2 separate regions of the Homo sapiens genome follow, and region 2 is linked to region 1. A link means that fine-mapping ties the variant in region 1 to the expression of a gene that starts in the linked region. Tissue or cell type: uterus. Region 1 holds a variant in brackets; the other region holds the start of a gene. All regions are shown on one strand. Distances are from middle to middle.

What was found. PIP is the estimated chance that this variant, and not a neighbour inherited with it, causes the effect.
Region 2: it holds the start of MCF2L, and the variant in region 1 is fine-mapped to the expression of MCF2L in uterus (GTEx, PIP 0.94).

What each region holds. Positions count from the first base shown.
Region 1 is chr13:113,081,600-113,084,354 of GRCh38, reverse strand. It overlaps MCF2L (MCF.2 cell line derived transforming sequence like), which reads right to left. Exons shown (of 30, transcript NM_001112732.3): 17 at 1,813-1,928; 18 at 288-357. Among named protein-coding and RNA genes, the nearest start is that of F7, 23 kb to the left of the region's middle. The variant G/A (reference allele first, on the strand shown) is at 1,284.
Region 2 is chr13:112,967,707-112,970,333 of GRCh38, reverse strand. It overlaps MCF2L (MCF.2 cell line derived transforming sequence like), which reads right to left and starts at 1,120. Exons shown (of 30, transcript NM_001112732.3): 1 at 876-1,120. The coding sequence starts at 954. It overlaps MCF2L-AS1 (MCF2L antisense RNA 1), which reads left to right and starts at 1,696. Exons shown (of 1, transcript NR_034002.1): 1 at 1,696-2,627. RefSeq lists a silencer at 1,185-1,244 and an enhancer at 1,446-1,965.

The DNA.
Region 1 (2,755 bases):
AAGGTTCTGGGGTTCAGGAGGTTCTGGGGTACAGGAGGTCCTGGGGTACAGGAGGTTCTGGGGGTTCAGGACGTTTTCTGGGGTTCAGGAGGTTTTCTGGGGTTCAGGAGGTTCTGGGGGTTCAGGAGGTTCTAGGGGTACAGGAGCATCATGGTATCTCAGCCAAATTGAAAACATCGTATTTTGTGATTTCAGTTGGTTAGAATAGGAACTTGCAGTAGAATCTGAAGTCATTATTCAGTACTTTTAAGAAGTTGTGACAAAATACACGTCAAAACACCACCTACCCTCTCCAGAAAGCATCTTCCAACCAGTTCTGGGCAGTCAGTGTAGTTTTCCAGCTCCCTGAGGAATATCCTAGACAAAGAAGGTTTTTAAGTAGTATGAAAGACAGGCCGAGTCACGTGGACCAGTGACAAGTGGATGGACGTCATTTTTCAGAAGCCTGTTACGCCTTGCTCTGGGCAATCTGCCCCGCATGACTTGGAGACGCCGCAGCCACGCCTGTCCTGAGCACCAAGCTCTCAGGCGCCAGCAGGTGCAGCCCCAGGCTGAGTCTCTTTATATTTCTGGCCTTGGCTGCACACAGAAGTTGGAGGGAGCTGCTTTTCCCTCAGCACACACACGGCTCACAGGGCCGCAGGCAAAGACAGAGATGGGACCTTTCAGGGCCCTGGAGGCGCCACCCCCATAACTGGCCGTGGGTCTGTGGGTTCTCTGCAGACACACCCTGAGCCCTGGCCCTAGGCAGCGCCGCCCCCAGGCTCCTGGGCTGTTTTCTGTTGCATCTGTCCCCTGGAGGAAGTCCGGCTGGAGGGGAAAACCGTCTGGGGGATGGATTTGGGGCATGAGCACAACAGCTGAAAGCTGTGGGGACCCCTGCGTGCAGGACTGGCTGAGACCCTGGGGGCCATGAGGACAGATACTAAGGGACACTAAGGTTCTGCCCAAGCTCCGTGGACGTGGAAGGCTCCTTGGTGGTCAACTGCAGACCTGCTGCCTCCTTGTAAGTGGCAGGTGAGGTGATGAGAGGGCAAGAAACAGGTGTCAGAACAACATCCCAAGCACTGGCGATTCCCATGGCCAGTGGGGCACGCTGGTCCCCAAGCACATGGCCGCATGGGAGCCACTCACATGGGTTCCTTCCAGGACACGCAGCGGGGGCTGTCCACTGCAGCCTCCCTGGCATTCTGCACTGCGTGTGCACCCTACACCTTCCCATGAGCTCCCCAAAACTGTGTTAAAGCAGCCAAACAGCTCAGAGGAGTGGAGGACAAGAGGCC[G/A]GACAGGCCACCTGCACTGGAGAGGCCACGGGTCGCTCGGGGGACAAGCAGCCCCCATGATGGGTAAGGAACGCCTAGTTTGCCGTCCTTTTCAAGAGCTTGGGAACAAAACAGGCCTTGCTATGTGGTATGGCCTTCGGTGACCCCCTAAAGGGCCGAATACACACCTGGGAGGGGGTTCCGGCTTCCACCTGCCCAGCAGGATGAGGAGGGGATGAGGGGCAGGCGGGTCCCATTTCCTGCACCACAAAACAGGGCGCACTCGGGCTCAGAGCCCTCTCCTCACGGCTGGCGGCTCACTTACAACTTGGCTGCCTAGACACAGGCCACCAGGTACGGTGCCACGTGGGCGCTCAGAGATGGCCCCATGTACCCACACTCAAGCCTGTGCCTCTGTGAGTCCACCCCTTGGGCGCCCCTCCCTAGCCAGGCATGGCCTGGCCTCCACCCCCATTCCAGCCCCCTGAAGCCAGCACCATTAGCTGCAAGAGATCACGGGTGCGTGCCTGTGTCGGGGGGAAGGGCCCACCTGTTGTGGAAGTGATAGATTTCCTCCATGTTTCCAAACAAAACATCCTTCTTGTTGTGAAGGCCTGTTGACAGGAGGTGAGCCATCAGTGGGTTATCCATCTCCGCGGCGTAGCCCTGCAGGGAGAGCGCAGAGGTCGGCGGGGGTCCTGGGCCTGATGCTGTGGGGGGGCAGGTGGGCCAGGGATGCCGGCTCATCTGTGGGCCAGGCCAGCCCTTCATCTTTATTCTCGGGTGATTTCTAAGTTACCGGGACAGGCATCCATCAAAGCAAAAGCATTATGAACAGCACCAATTTGGGGGAATGGGGTGGAGGTTCTACCCTTCTCCCTTTTAACCTTTTATGATTCAGGTGTAACTGAAACAGAGGGCACAAATCTTATGTCTACACTCGGGTGACCTGCTCACACTCAGTAAATCAGACACTCGACTACACTCAGGTGACCACCACCTGTGCACACTCGGTGACTCAGACACCCGTCTACATTTGGGTGACCACCACCTGTGCACACTCGCTGTCTACACTCAGGTGGTCACCACCTGTGCACACTCGCTGTCTACACTCAGGTGATCACATGTGCACACTCGCTGTCTACACTCAGGTGACCACATGTGCACACTCAGTGAATCAGACACCTGTCAACACTCAGTTGACCACCACCTGTGCACACTCGGTGAATCAGACACCCGTCTACACTTGGGTGACCACCACCTCTGAACACTCGGTGATTCGGACACCCGTCTACACTCAAGTGACCACCACCTGTGCACACTCGCTGTCTACACTCAGGTGATCACTACCTGTGCACACTGGGTGAATGAGATGCCTGTCTATACTCAGGTGACCACCACTCACATCAAGCTCACCCAGGCAACAGCCCACTGCCAAGGTCACCTCTAATCTGCCTCCCACCTCCGACGAGTTTTGCTTGCCCTGGAGTGCC
Region 2 (2,627 bases), 110 kb after region 1:
GCAGAGAAAGAGAACCACACCCAAACCAAGCAACTGACATTTTAATCTCCCAGGCAAGTACTAGTTAGACAACTAGTAATGGCATATATGACATAACATATGGCAACATCAGGCAAAACACTTGGCAACTTACTTTTAATGATATATCATTATTTCCTCTTCATTTCAAGGAAAACGAGTTAAGGATGCCTCTCCCTTCTGCATAACACAGCCTGAGAACTCAGATGCGACCGCCTGAAAGCCACGGCCAGATGCAAGCTGTCAGCCCAGTCTCTGCTTACACCTAAAAGAATCGATCTGAACTACTCTTCAAAGCTTATTTGAAGTAATATTTCGATTAATACTGAAAATGAACGTCCAGTCCACTCTTTACCCATACCGTCTCAAACATCTGTCTTAGGTTTAAATTGCATTTAATGAAGAAAAGAACCACCTGATTAGTCCAGGTTTTTTCATCCTCAAAACGAGCTTCCAGGTAGCTTCACCATCCCTACCCCTGGCTCTGAAACCCCAAGCTCTGAAAGCCCTTGGCTCAGATCATTCTCCATTCGCAATGCATTCTCCATTGCGAGGGCTGCGGACAGGCAGGTTGATGGGCAGACTTCAGACACACAAATGGCTCCGCATGCAGACCCAGCAACCCTGAGAGAGCCAGTGTCACCAACGTGCAGTCATTTTGACTATCCCGGGCAGCATACGATCGCCGACAGCCTCTGAAAACACACCAGCTGCCAACCAGTGCCCCCCATGTCACAGCTACCACGGCTAGAAAGGAACACGAGGGCGGCTTACAAAAATCAGACGCATTTCCCCACATTTCAGCCCATGATGTCAAGCTTAAGCACAGATCACTGACGGCCAGCAGCTCCTCCTACCCGTGTGCTTGGAAACCGCATTTAATCTCTGCACCATTTCTTCCAAGGCCATCTCTTCAGTCCTCAGCCAAAACCTCATCCTCCGACACAACAAAAATGATCCTGGCAGATCCGCTTCCTCCGCACGGGGGGCGCCTGCGGGTGGGGCCGTGCGAGTGCGGAGGGGGCGCGGCGGAGGCGGGGAGGGGGCCACGGCAGCGCTTTCAGCCTCCAGCCGCCGCCTCCCTGCCCAGGATTGGTTCCGCGCCACCGGGAGGGGGGCGCGCGCTGCGCCGCGGGGGGCGGGGGGCGGCTCGGCGGAAGCGGAAGCGGCGCGCGCCCGCCCCGGTGTGTCACCACCGCGGGTCACCTGGGAGTCCTGTGAGTGCACCGCCGGGGTCACCTGGGAGCCCCGCGTGTCACCGCCGCGGTCGTCGGGGAGCCCCGGGGCTCACCAACGAGGTCACCTGGGAGCCCCGCGGGTCACCGCCGCGGTCACCTGGAAGTGTCACCTGTGTCACTAGGTCACCTAGTGTATCACACAGGTCACCTAGAAATTCGTGTCACCGCCAAGGTCACCTAGAAATTCGTGTCACCGCCGAGGTCCCCTGGGAGCCCCGCGGGTGCCGCACAAGTGCCCCCGCCCTTCCCCCCGGTTCCGGGTCTCCACGCCCTCCTGGTTTGCGGGCAGCCGCGAAGCCGCGAGTGGACCGAGCGAGTGCAGCTGCCTCCGCGGGGCCGCGCCTGGCCGCCGCCTCCCTTTACCTCCGGCCGCCCCGTGGCAGGTGTAGAAGCTGCAGAGGCCGCAGCAGCCCAGCGCGCCCCTTCCGTGTGGCCGCATGCCACCCGCGCCGCGCCCAGGTAAGCAGGTCCGTGGGTCGCTGGGTCCATGCGTGGGTCCGTGGCTGGCCGGGGATGGACCAGCCCCTCCCCGCAGGGGCATCGCCTGCCCAAGGACGCAGGACCCAGTGAGGGAAGCGCGCGCTGCAGGCACGGGGCTCTCCACCCTCGCCATGGTTGGCACCAAGCCACACTGTGCACTCGACACACGCAGCGTCCTGGCTGCCACCTGCAGATTCCAGCTCGTGTCTATGCAGGGCCATGGCCGCCATCACAGGGCCATATGCAAGAAACTCTCTGAGCTCTCCTCGCCCAAAACCGCAGCTATCCTTTTGTGGTTTGGTATTATAGGTAACATGCCCTTCCTTAAAGAAACAGTATTTCAGGCCTGTAGTCCCAGCTACTCCGGAGGCCGAGGCAGAAGCTGAGGCAGAAGCAGGAGGATCATTTGAGCCCAGAAGTTTGAGCCTGGGCAATGTAGCAAGACCCCCCCCCCCACCTCACTCCCCAATCAGTTAAAAGAGAGAGAGAGAGAGAGAGAATTCCAGCAGGAAGAAGTACACATTTCCACGAATGGTTTGGGAATTCAAGCATCATATGGCTGAGGTTTGAACTACAGCTCATGCCAATAACATGTGCACATGCGCCAGCATTCCAGCGTCCAACAGAGCATGCGTGCACCATTCCAGCATCCGGCAACAATGCACCAGCATTCCAGCGTCCAACAGAGCATCCGTGTACCATTCCGGCATTTGGCAACAATGCACCAGCATTCCAGAGTCCAACAGGGCATGCGTGCACCATTCCAGCATCCGGCAACAATGCACCAGCATTCCAGCGTCCAACAGAGCGTGCGTGCACCATTCCAGCATCCGGCAACAATGCACCAGCATTCCAGCGTCCAAAAGAGCATCCGGCAACATCCCGGTGTCC